Regions from separate parts of the Homo sapiens genome. Here region 2 is linked to region 1. A link means that fine-mapping ties the variant in region 1 to the expression of a gene that starts in the linked region. Tissue or cell type: whole blood. Region 1 holds a variant in brackets; the other region holds the start of a gene. All regions are shown on one strand. Distances are from middle to middle.

Region 1 (7,575 bases):
GAAAGGCCTAGGCAAAACTCTTTTTTTTTTTTTTTGAGACAGGGTTTCGCTCTTTTTGCCCAGGCTGGAGTGCAGTGGTGCTCACCACAACCTCCACCTCCCAGGTTCAAACGATTCTCCTGCCTCAGCCTCCCGAGGAGCTGGGACTACAGGCGCCCGCCACCATGCCTGGCTAATTTTTTGTATTTTTAGTAGAGACGGGGTTTCACCGTGTTAGCTGGGATGGTCTCGATCTCCTGACCTCGTGATCCACCTGCCTCGGCCTCCCAAAGTGTTGGGATTACAGGCGTGAGCCACCGTTCCTAGCAACCTAGGCAAAACTCCTGGTGGCCGTTTGTTATATTCCAGCCTTTGTATAAGGGCACTGGCTGTCTTAGCTTTTAATATTTAACTTAACCACTCAGTGAGTACTGAAACAGTTGTTATGGAGGCCTGCATTAGTGAGACCTGGCCTGCCACACGCTGGCCTGGCTGGAGCTTGTTTCATCTGTCCATGGGGGTGGAGCGGGAGTTATTTGTCCCTGCCTTTGTCTCTGGCCTCCTCCACCTGCAGCTCTGGCAATAGCTGCCCCTTTATGGGTTTCAATCAGAGCTCTGAAACATTGTTTTTCATTTCCCCCTTTTCTGCTAATTAACTGCAGCCTATTAATTAGTGCTATTGGACTCCCCACTCCCATAAACCCCATTCACTAACCATGCCTTGCCTCCCCAGCTTTTGCTAAATATGTGACTGCGCTGTAGTGTAGCTGCCGCTCCCTGAGAAGTGATTACGGATCTTGGCTATGCTGACCCCCTGCCACAGCTGCCCAGAGAGGTCACAGCTTGGCCAGATGCTTCATCTTGATTAGCCCTTAACTTCTTCCCTCCCTTCTTCCCTCCCCATCTTCCTCTCTGACATTGAGAGGGCCTGGCACTAAGCTGTCAGTTAAAATCCCTCTTAGTATCAAGCATCGATCTCTCTTCTCGCGGCACTCCCTGGGGTTGCTCCGGGGCACAGAAAACAGCACTGTGGGGCCAGAGGAACTTAGCTGATCCCCTCCCCTGACCTGGTGGAGTCTCCCATCAAAACCCAGATCTGCTTGTTTCAGATCCCTTGACCTCATTATCGATCACAGTGATTTTGGTCTGTGTTACCCCTTTAACTCTCAGCTCTGATGTCAGCTCCCTTTTTGTTTACTTAGCTTTCATGTGAAATTCCTAATCTTCAAAGCTCTGCTTCTTTTCACCTCTTTTCCACCCCACCCAGACTTCTTACCTCCATTCCTGGAGTCTCCCAACTCTCCCAGTGTGATCACTTCAGTGCTCCACTTCTCCGTTATGAGAAGGCCCTTATTTCTCGCTCTCTTTTTTTCTTTTGAGACTGAGTCTTGCTCTGTCGCCCAGGCTGGAGTGCAGTGGCGTGATCTCGGCTCACTGCAACCTCTGCCTCCAAGGTTCAGACAGTTCTCCTGCCTCGGCCTCCCATGTAGCTGGGATTACAGGCATGTGCCACCACGCCTGGTTAATTTTTGTATTTTTAGTAGAGATGGGGTTTCACCTTGTTGGCCAGGCTGGTCTCAAACTCCTGACCTCAAGTGATCCACCCGCTTTGGCCTCCCAAAGTGCTGGGATTACAGGTGTGTGGTTAGAGCCCGGCCTCTTTCTTGTGTTTAATTCTTATGTTTTAATTCTTGACTCCTCTTCTGTGATTCCCCCTTTCCCCCAAATACACTCATAAACTCTCTCCCCCCGTCCCCCCTCAGCTCAAGCTAAGCCTGGGGTATGGGAAGGATGTGATCCCTTCTTTAGTAATAGCCCAGGCCTCATTAGAAACTGCAGGGGAAGTAGCTGAACTTATGGTAGACAGAATGCAATACCGCGATCATGATGGTGGTAAAAATAGCTACCACTGATTGAGATCTGACTGCCTGTCAGGCATGGTGTGAAACACACACACATCTCATGTAGTTCTTCCAGCTCCCTTTTGACTGTACTCCATCCTCCAGATGAGGAAAGTGAGGCTCAGGATCCTTAAGTAACTTGCCCAAGTTCACACAGCTGCTAAGTGCCTGAGCCTGTATTTAAACTCTGTCAACTCCCGATCTATGTTTATGTAGTTTTTTTTTTTTTTTTTAACTTTGGTCCGCACAATCCTTTAGGTGAAAGTGATTTTCTTTGGAATGTAAAAGCGCCCAGATCATGGTGTGACTCTACTCTTCCTTCAGTCCTAGGAGACCAAATGTGGCTCAGAGCCCTACCCCTTCCTGGCCTTTTCCCCCTTGCACAGTATGACCCCAGATGAGGCCTGTCCTCTTTATACCTGGAGGTAGTAGATCGAAGATGAAAAGTGGGGGTGGGAAGCGGAGAGGGGCTTCCTGCCAGCCAATCGGGACGCGACCGCCCAGGCTCCCAGCACAGCATCATCTGCTCCTGCTAAGACAATCATCAACATAAAAGGCTAATTGTATTAATCACCAAGGCACCCGGCCCGAGTCCCCCTCCCTTTGGGGAGAATTATGAATTGCAATTGCAGATGGCTCCACTGATTGAAGGCAGTGCTCAGCAGGGAGAAGGGTCAGATCAGATTATACACCATTAATTAAAAACTTCCCTGACAAACAGGAGGAAGGGAATGCACACCAAGGGCTGGCCTGGTTGGGTCTCTGTCCTCCCCATGTCCCCTGCCCCCACCCAGGCCCAGGGGCTATGCCAATGAAGCCTGCTTCCCCCAGCTGGAGCTACTGAGATTCAGCTCTCCAAAGGCCAGCCCTTCCCTCATCCAAACAGATGGCCTGCTGTCCTATTAAAGGGCTCCAGAGGAGGGGAAGCGAACCTTTGGTTACTTATTTCCACGTCTAACCTTGGATGCTCTTCAGAGGCTAACCTAATTCCCCACTTCTCAGGAAACTTATTTCCTCCTGCTCTGTCCTGACAGAACTGCTTTGAAGAACTGTTAGTGAAAATAGCCCCTCAGCTTTCTCTTCAGGCAACCCCTCATATTTTGGCCTGTATGTTCCTGGGACAGACATTGTGAAGCCTGCTCTGAAATTGTGGGTGGAACAGCAAATATCTGGCGATGCACCCTCTCCCCAGCCCCTGCCTGGAAGCATAGGCTTCTCAGCTGCTGTCATACTGGCTTATTTGGAGCTGTAACTCCTGAAATTTTCTCCTCTTGATCTATTACTGCCTCCCATCCTCCCCAACTGCCCAGCCTTATTCATTCATCAAACTTATATTGAGCACCCAGTGTGTGCTTGGCTCTGGGGACAAAAAGCAGTGATCATTTGTCAAGGAGCTTAAGAGCCTACCATAGGAGCTCCACGCCCCCATCCCCTTCAATCCTCTAGTTCCTGTTTCCTTCCTTCCTGGGGCTGCAGCTTGTATGAACCCCCCAGGAGCTCTATTTTGGAAAATTCTCAACTGGGAGCTGGGGAGACCTTAAGTGTTCGTGCTCCTGAACCAGGTGACCTTGAGCAAGTCAATCATGTCCTCTGTTTACACATACGCTCTCATACATGCATACATACAGACACCCAGCTCTCCCTGCTCATAAAAGGACACAGGCAGCCTTGGACTCTGAGAGATTGTGAAGATGGATGAGTGGGGCCCAGCTTGGAGAGATGTGAGTAGTATCTGCGCTGATATTACAGAACGCTGAGCACAGCTACTGGGGCTATGAGCACCAGGGATTCAGCTACTGCACTGGTCACAGGCTGGGCCTGCCACACTGCCCTTGGAAGACTTGGGCAGCCTTTCCCCCATCCCCAGTCCCTCAGGAGACATCACTAAAAAGGATCTATCTTTTGTTTGTATTTTAATTTAATTAATTTTTCATTTTAAATAATAGAGATGAAGTTTCACTATGCTGCCCAGGATGGTCTCAAACTCCTGGCCTCAAGCAATCCTCCTGCTTGGGCCACCCAACATGTTGGTGATTACAGGTTTGAGCCGTCATGCCTGGCTAAGTTTTTAATTTTTTGTAGAGGCAGGGTTTTGCCATGTTGTCCAGGCTGGTCTCGAACTCCTGGCCTCAAGCGATCCTCCCACTTTGGCCTCCCAAAGTGTTAGGATTACAGGTGGGAGCCACTGCACCAGGCCAGGACCCATCTTTTGTTTTGTTTTTTTTGTTTTTTTTTTTGAGACAGAGTCTTGCTCTGTCACCAGGCTGGAGTGCAGTGGCGTGATCTTGGCTCACTGAAACCTCTACCTTCCGGGTTCAAGTGATTCCCCTGCCTCAGCCTCCCAAGTAGCTGGGACTACAATCACGCGCCACCACGCCCGGCTAATTTTTTATATTTTAGTAGGGACAGGGTTTCACCATGTTGGCCAGGATGGTCTCGATCTCCTGACCTCGTGATCTGCCCGCCTCAGCCTCCCAAAGTGCTGGGATTACAGGCGTGAGCCACCGTGCCTGGCCGCCAGGACCCATCTTTTATATGAATTTGGCTGCTGCATCTTAGGGTACCATGGTGATGGGCGTCATAGAGATGAGAAGAACTGATTTTATTGGTTCGCCTCTTCATTCCAGGGCCCTCCCACAGCCCCTCACACCCACAAAGCCTCAAGGTCAGCAGACCCAGGAGAAGAGCACACAGGGTCCCTGGTTAAGTAGATCCAATGATGTGAGAGAAAACCCAGTCTCTCTTCCCTCCCTCTCAATCATCTTTCTCTCTCTCTTTTCCCCTCCTCCCTCTCATTACCAACAGCAATTGTCTTCATACCCAATAATTACAGTAACAGCAACAATAATCATCATTTATTGGGGTTGTTTTTCTAGCATTTTAACTTCTGAAAGTATTTTCCGATTTCTTGATTTCACAGCAGTCCCTGGAGGAGGATTGTGTGTCCATTTTACAGCTGGAGAAGCCGAGATCCAGAAAG[G/T]ACCCCCAAGTTGTGGGCAGAATAAATCTACAGCAGCTTTTAACTATTAAACCAACTTAGATTTTGGTAGTCTTTCAGAGGCACTGAATCTCAAATCTTAGTTTCCTGGGTCCCTCCTGGGTTCCTACCACCCTTAGGGCTTATTCAACAGCTTTCTGGGGATCCTGTAATGCTGACAGAGAGCCTGGAGACGGCTTCTTTGACCCAGGTCATGAGTCAATGGCTAGATGGGCACTTCCCCTCTGAGGATTGTTCCTGCCTGAGAGTGGGCTGTGGGGTGGGAGCTGGGGCAAGCACCTGGGAGGAGGCTTCCCTGGGAAAGGCCTGTCTGGCTCAAACCTCCCTTCCTCTATCCCACCTCTCTACGAGCCTGAGAAAATGTTCTTCTCTGTGTCAGTTCTTCTCAAGGGTGGGGGCCTCTCCAGAGCATTTGGAGGATTGAGGAATAAAGACCTATTGGGAGAGGCCGGGCACGGTGGCTCACGCCTGTAATCCCAGCACTTTGGGAGGCCGAGGTGGGCAGATCGCCTCAGGTCAGGAGTTTGAGACCACCCTGACCAATATGATGAAACCCCATCTCTACTAAAAATACAAAAAATTAGCTGGGCGTGGTGGCAGGCGCCTGTAATCCCAGCTACTTGGGAGGCTGAGGCAGGAGAATCCCTTGAACCCAGGAGGTAGAGGTTGCAGTGAGCCGAGATCATGCCACTGCACTCCAGCCTGGGTAACAGATCAAGATTCTGTCTCAAAACAAACAAAGATCTATTGGTAGAGCAGTCTCTGTCCTCAGGAAGCCCCCAGTCTGAAGGAGGAAATATAGCCCCCAAAACCACACCCAAGGTCAGAGAAACACCCCCAGGAGCTCAGAGGCTGTCCCAGGGCCTGATTCCTCCAGAAAGCCTGTCCTCTCTGGACCAAGGGTTTCCTGGGTGGGTAAGAAGCTGGGGCTCCCTGAGGTCCCTATAGCTCCCATGTCTAAGCAGAGTGGCTGTCTGGGCTCCCATTCCTTTCTCCCCCAAGACTTGGGCATCTGGGGTCAGGACTCCTACGGGGTCCAGTGGGTGAGAGGATGGGAGGGCGATCCTAAATCCCCTGCCTTCCTCTGCTCTGTCCCACCGAGAGGTGGGGAAGCCCTACAGAGAGGGAATGGGACAAATTCACTCCCAGATTCTACCTAGAAACGTAATGCCAGGGATAGGGCTTGTCCCCTCCAGCCCACCTGGTCAGGACAAAAGGTCAAGCCTCCCCCTCCCGCCACCCCCAGGGAGAACCTCCAGGCAGGTCCTGCAAGGCAGGAAGCCCAAGGGCGCGGCCAGGCGTAGGCTGTTTCACACACTCTCCATCTCCACGGCTCCCGAACCCGGCTGGGATTCCTTCTTCAGGGGCTCCGCCCCTGCCCCTGCCCCTGTCCCCACCTCTACGGTGCCTGTGAGGATAGCCAGCCGCTGCGCCAGGGTCTTGGTGTCGGGGAACAGGACGAAGTTGTAGATCAGTGAGGCCAGGAGGGCTCCCATCAGGGGCCCCACCCAGAAGACCTGAGGAGAAGGATGTCGTCACCCCACCCAGGAGCTATCAGGACCACAGGGTGGCTCTGGGACCGCTGCCTGCTTCCCCAGTGCCGACTTGATCTCCCAGGTCTCCCTCAACTGTCTGTAAGGTGCTAAATTTGAGAACCACGAGTCGTGTTTCCCAAGCCCACAAGGTAAGGGGACCTTGCCCCTTGCTCTCCCTGCCCTCCCTGGGGCTGAGCCCAGGCTCTGCAGCCGTGGCTGGGGCCTGGGGCCAGTCTCCTCACCCGCCCCCGCCTCTTTCCTCTCACTTCCCCCGTTTTAGCCAGGAGTCCTGGCTATTGCTGTTTCTGTCTCTGCTGGTGTGTGTGTCTATTTCTGTTTGTCTTTTTCTTTATCCAAGTTTGAAAATTGGTCCAGCTGGAGAAAGTGAATAAGGAAACAGCCAGGACTTAAAAGTCTGGGCCAAGGCTGCAGCTCCTGCCCTGGCCCATTTCTTGCCAGTCCACTGGGTATCCTGGGCAACTGAAGCCGAAAAGAAAGGAAGTCTCAGCCAAGACATTCACCCTGGCCTTCTGAGCTTAGGGAAGCTGCAAGTGAAACCCACCGTCTACAGGCAACTCAGGCTCCCTTCCCTCCCCAGGGCTGCCAGCAGAGGGGCTCACCCAGTGGACTGTGAACTTCCCAATGATGATGGCAGGGCCGAAGGAGCGGGCTGGATTCATGGAGCAGCCAGTGAAGTGGATCTGGGGAGCAAGTGCAGGGTCAGGGTGGGAGAAGGTTTAAGGCAGGCCTGAGAGGGGACCATTTCTCAGTCCTGGCTCAGAGCCTTAGCCCCAGCCACGGCCTCTGTAGTGCCATATCCTGGGCCTAGAGTGCAGGGGGTACCACTTTGGCTCCAAGGCACGAGGGGCTCAGGGAGGGACACTGCCTGGCCTTCAGGGCTCCACAGTTTCCCCGGGGACGGACCCGGTGTGTGCATGTGCACGGTGTCCCCTCTGTTCCTTACCCCAATGAGGTGGCCCAGTGCCACAGAGATCCCAATCATGGTGGCCGGGGAGCCTGATGTCTGACGGCTGTCGGTGGAAGCGAAGACACAGAGCACCAGCTGCAGGGTCAGAAGCAGCTCCACTGCCACCGCCTGGCCAGTTGAGACACTGTTCCGGACCTGGACAGAGGGAGTTACTCTGGACCAGACGCGGGCTCT
Region 2 (5,295 bases), 80 kb before region 1:
GTGGCCTAGAAGGTAAGCTTGGTGGGTTTGTGGCTATGCCAGACCACGCACGTGTGTGCATATATGTGTGTGTTGTGCACTGTAGGCTCTCTTTCCTGCCATCATGGCTGCAAGGCTGAGGCTCAGGTGCTCATGCAGTGAGTGCAAATGTGCCCCTATGCTGAACAAACTCCCCTTCTACTAGAAGCAAACCCCAGGACATACAACTTCCTCTCCCAGAGTAGCAAGCACCCGGAGAGGCCCAGCCTGCTCCTTGTCTCCTCCTCCTCCTCTGTGGGCCAGGCTGACTCACACCCCACACGAGGGGACTCACCACCTTGAAGTCTTCAGCGCTGCAGACCTCCCCCCGGAAGTGGCAGGAGAGCAGCATGTCTCGAATGTCGTGCCCAGCTCGGTCGTAGAACTCACGCATGTTGAAGGGTTTGGGTTTGAAGCTGCGGAAGTTGGCTTTGTCCTGCAGTATCTCCAGCTGCTTTTCATCTGCCATCTGTGTGTCTGGTATCTCATACCTGGGGTCCGGGGGTGAGTGACACACGGGTCAGTACAGTCATCAGTGTCCTGCACCCAACTTGGGTGATGGGGGCAGCCTCCAGCCCTGGGGATCAGTCCCAGGTGTAGGCAAGGAAGGAGAGCTGGGCATGCAGAGGCTCTACCACATGGGTCTGAAATGACAGGAGGAACTGTAGTGGCTGCCCAGGGGCAGGGCATCCCATCCCAGCACATGGGTGAGAGGAAGCATGGATAAGGTGGGCAGAGAGACAAGGCAGGGGCTGTGGCTTTTATACTGTAGTTTCTACCCTTTAAAGATGTTCTGTCCCCATCCCCCAACTGACGAGAAGGTCAAGACAGAGTGGCCAGAATGAAGGTAAAGCTCACTCCAGAGAGGGTGACAATGTCTCATACCTCAGGCTGGGTGGGGGTCGAGCTGTTCTGGACTATGCTGGGATCGGAGGCTGGGTGCCCTTAACTGGGTGCTCAGCAGCACCCTAACTCCTCTGCTGTGAGTGGCAGGTTTGGGGGTGGGGGTGGGTTAAAGGGCAGGGTTGGCTGGGCTCTATGGTGGGTCAGGGAGGCAGACATCCTGACTGGAACTCAAGCAACTCCAGGAGCAGGGCTGAGGGAGGGTGGGAGCCACCCACCTGTTGTTGAGCAGGGCCAGCAGCTCCCCAGCATGATACAGGTCATTCTTGGAGACTTGGCTAAAGCGGAACTCGTTGAGGTTGCACAGCGTGACAGCAGGGAAGGTAAGCTGAGAGGCAGCCACCTCGTCGAGCTTGGTGACATGGTGGTAGTGGAAGTAGTACTGCACACGCTCCGTGCACACACACAGCAGCACAGCCAGGGAGCCCAGGAAGCACAGGGCCCACAGTGCCCGCTTCAGAGACAGCCGCTCGTAGGAGAAGATGTGGGCCAGGCCGTGCAGTGTGGAGCTGCTGGCGAAGGCCTGGATGCTCACCGGCTGGACGCCACCCACCTCCTCCTCCTCGGCCTTCAGTTCCATCCTTGTTGAGGGGATCCTGGGGGAGGAGGGAGGGACAGTCTATCATTGTCCTGGGATGAAAGTACACATGGAGCCCCTCCACATGTGCCCATCCAGAATCCTCATCTCCAGAGGTCACCACTCCTCGGGCAGAAGACTTCCCTGCTTTGCAAGCCCAGAGGTGGCTGACCAAGGGACACATCCAGGGTTCCTCCAAATACAGAGGCACAGGGGGTCAGGTCAGGCCAAGAGAATGCTCCCCAGAGAAGCTTCCCAGGCCCGGGGAGACCCCAGATATAGTCATCCGAGGTTGAGGGGGAAGTCCTGATGCACCCATAGGCAGGCGCAGGAGTTCCCTCCAGATGTGGGGTCACTCTGGGACAAGAATATCCACCCCATCCTGGAGATGAAAACTCACCCAGATGGGCTGACCCCGGGGTAAGGAGCTCCTGTCCTGGTCACGGGTATTCCCTGGACGGGGCTGTGGTCCTAAGGGCTAAACTGGGGCCAGAAAACCCCCAGGGAGGTGGCTACATCTAGGGAGGGGCCCAGCCTGAGTCCTCACCTGCGGGTGTCTCCAGTTCTCACATAAGCGCAGGCTGTGTGTATGTTGGGAGTGGGGGGTGGCGGGCTGCCCGAGGTGGATGTATGGAGGGGGGGCGCGGTTCCCTATGACAGCGAGCTGTCCCCGCCCCGGACGCAGCCCCCCCCAGTCCAGCTTCTCGTCGCAGTCAGATCCCCAGCTCGGCCCCCGCCCCCCTCCCCAGCCACCGAGCCGCCCCAGCAGCAAGGGAAATCCAGAGGGAGGAGAGTCCCGGCTTCGGGGTACCGAGGAGCCTCGCGGCCAAAGGCAGGGGTATCGGAAACCCACCTGAGGGGGCTTCGGCAAGCCGGCAGCCGGCGGCGGGTCCTGGGGCGCTGGACCGGTGGCGGGCTCAGCGCCGAGTCGCGGAGGGGCTCATGGCCCGGGGCCGGAGCCCGCGGCCGCCGCGGCACGCCGCGCAGAGCCCTGCAGGGAGCGCCCCGCCCGGCCCCGCTCGGCTCCGATCTGTCCGCCCGCCCGCGCGCGCTGGCTCGCTGGCTCGCTCGCCTCGGCTCGGTCTGCCCGGGCTCGGCGCGGTGCGCGGTGCTCTCAGCCCTGGGATCTGCAGGGATCCATCGTCCGGCCGGGAGGCGGCGGGAGGGGAGGGGGAGGGGAGAGGGTGCGCGTGCGCGCCTACGAGTGTCTGCGAGGCTGTCTCTGGGCTGGTGTGCGCGCGGGGCCCCGGATCCGGGAGCGGGACCCAGGGCTCCCCGCGCCGCCTCGCCCCTCCTCGCGGCCGCTTTCGGCGGCGCTGCCTCTCTCCAGTCCCGGAGCCGTCTCCCTGCCTGCGAGGCCCTATGGCTTGTGTGTATGACTCTGTGTGTGGTGTGTGTGCGCGCGCGCGTGTGTGCGCGCAGGAGGGAGGGTGTCTGCCCCTAGCGTCCCTCTCCCCGCGCTGTCTCCTTCGGATCGATGCTCCTGCCTCTTGCTGCTGCTTCCTCTGGTGGCACACACGCGCGTACACACACACATACACACACACGCTCCGAGTCACACTTGACTAATTCAAGCACTTAGCCCATATGGAGACAGACACACATACCGACCAGAGTCACACCACACCATTCACAACCACACCCCCCCGCAACAGATGTCCACGTATCCCGGGGGCCTGACCCACATGGCAAGCACTCACCTGCTCTTATCCCTGCTCCCACCTGCATGTGACACATATACACGTGCACATATGTGAGCCAACACGCAGCCTTGACCACTCAGATCCCATCCTTGTAGCTTTGGGCTTGTGGGGGGCATGGTCGCAACCCCTTACTGCCAAATCTCCAAAGAAGGAGCAGAGAAAAGGAAGGAAAAATAGCCAGAGGTCAAGGGAATTTGGACAGAAGGAAGGAGGCAAAGGGAGTGAAGGGGACAGGGTGAGGAAGGGTTGGAACGGGGAGCTATGCTCAGGGATGGAGCAGAAGTCTCAGCACAGAACGCAGGCCTGGGGGCTGCTCCTGTGGCTCTCACCTTTCTCCTTCCCTGCCTCCCTCCTCTTCTCTGAGAGGCCTTGGGGAGGGGGGCCCTCCCTATCCAATTAACAGAGAAGGAGCAATCAAGGGGAAGTTGTTAATTTGCTGATGCTCATTAGGGGCTCTTAGCACAGAGGCTGTTGAGGTCTGATGGTGTCAGATGATGAGGAGGAGGGTGCGGGGGACCAGAGTTCTGTCTCTAGTGGCTCCTTCGCTCTACTTGCAGGCTGGTGCGGCTCGGGGAGAAGGATGGTGAGAGGTGTATTCCTAGGACATGGTGCCGGGCTTTAAGTTAGAAGAAAACCTGTAACGAGAAGGGGATGGCACATTGGAAAGAAGTTGGATGAGAAGTTGGGAGTAGTGGACATCTAGGAAACCAGAGAAGGGGTCTGGAGGTCCCTAGTGGGAGAGTGGACTTAAGATTGTGGAGGAGGGAGGTCGAGATCCATTTACTAGGGGACTGGACACGGAGCTGCCAAAAGGAAGGGAGGATCTTCCATTCAGGTCTTGGGGAGCTGTTCAGCGGTACCAGGCAGTGCTGGAGGGTTGCTATGCCCCCGGGCAGCCACTGGGTGGCAGCCCTCTCCCAGATACTTAGAATCAACTCGTGGGGGGCATTTGAGAGTGGGAAATCACCTGGGAGGGTCCCAGAGACCTGAGGAAGCATCAGGCAGAGTCTGATTCCTGAATTCCAAATATCCTCAGGGGGAGGGGAACACTATTTTGGAGCATCTGTAATTTCCCCACCTCCCCGCGGCTCGCAGGCTGACTGACACGTGGAGCCTCTTCAAATGGCTGCAATTGCTTCAGTCACCTGGGATGTTACTGAGGGAGCAGCGGGGGTGGAGGGAAGGTGATGAGGTGAGGTGGAGGCAGGCGAGGACTGATTGAGGCCAAGGAGCAGCCTCAGGAGGAGTCTGGGGGAAGACAGAAGGTATGAATCAGGAGAATCAGCTTCCAGACCTGGCCCTGCCATTCATTAGCATAGGCAGGCCCCTTGACCTCTCTGGACCTCGGTTTCCTCATCTGTAAGGCAGAGATAATATTTATTTCACAGGATTTTTCGAGGATTACATGAGCTAACGCATGGAAAGTGCTTAGTACATTGGCATGTACCTAGTAAATCCCAATAAGTAAATAACTATTATTAGTATTAGCATTTGGATCTAGTGGTAAAACCACCAGTGCAGCCAAACCAGGGCAGAATCTAAGGCACTGGTTCTTAACCCAGGCTGCACATTCGAATCACCTGGGGAGCTTTTAAAACTGCAATGCCAGCTGGGCGCGGTGGCTCACTCCTGTAATCCCAGCACTTTGGGAGGCAGAGGAGGGTGGATCGCCTGAGGTCAGGAGTTTGAGACCAACCTGGCCAACATGGTGAAACCCATCTCTACTAAAAATACAAAAAGTAGCTGGGCGTGGTGGCGGGCACCTGTAATCCCAGCTACTCGAGAGGCTGAGGCAGGAGAATCATTTGAACCTGGGAGGCGGAGGTTGCAGTGAGCCGAGATTGTGCTATTGCACTCTAGCCGGGGAGACAAGAGCGAAACTCCATTTCAAAAAATAAAAATAATAAGATAAAACTGCAATGCCAGCCAGGCGTGGTGGCTCACGCCTGCAATCCCAGCACTTTGGGAGGCCGAGGTGAGTGGATCACCTGAGGTCAGGAGACCAACCTGGCCAACATGGTGAAACCCTGCCTCCACAGAAAATACAAAAATTAGCCAGGCGTGGTGGCACGCACCTGTAATCCCAGCTACTCA

Evidence for each region. PIP is the estimated chance that this variant, and not a neighbour inherited with it, causes the effect.
Region 2: ASIC1 starts here. The variant in region 1 is fine-mapped to the expression of ASIC1 in whole blood (TOPMed, PIP above 0.99).

Annotation. Positions count from the first base shown.
Region 1 is chr12:49,974,285-49,981,859 of GRCh38, reverse strand. It overlaps AQP6 (aquaporin 6), which reads right to left. Exons shown (of 4, transcript NM_001652.4): 2 at 7,378-7,536; 3 at 7,034-7,114; 4 at 4,721-6,395. The coding sequence ends at 6,189. LOC105369764 (a long non-coding RNA gene) reads left to right here and starts at 6,355. Exons shown (of 3, transcript XR_001749143.2): 1 at 6,355-6,562. The variant G/T (reference allele first, on the strand shown) is at 4,861.
Region 2 is chr12:50,054,973-50,060,267 of GRCh38, reverse strand. It overlaps ASIC1 (acid sensing ion channel subunit 1), which reads right to left and starts at 2,672. Exons shown (of 12, transcript NM_001095.4): 1 at 2,352-2,672; 2 at 1,140-1,517; 3 at 314-509. The coding sequence starts at 1,501. RefSeq lists silencers at 2,470-2,639, 2,710-2,869.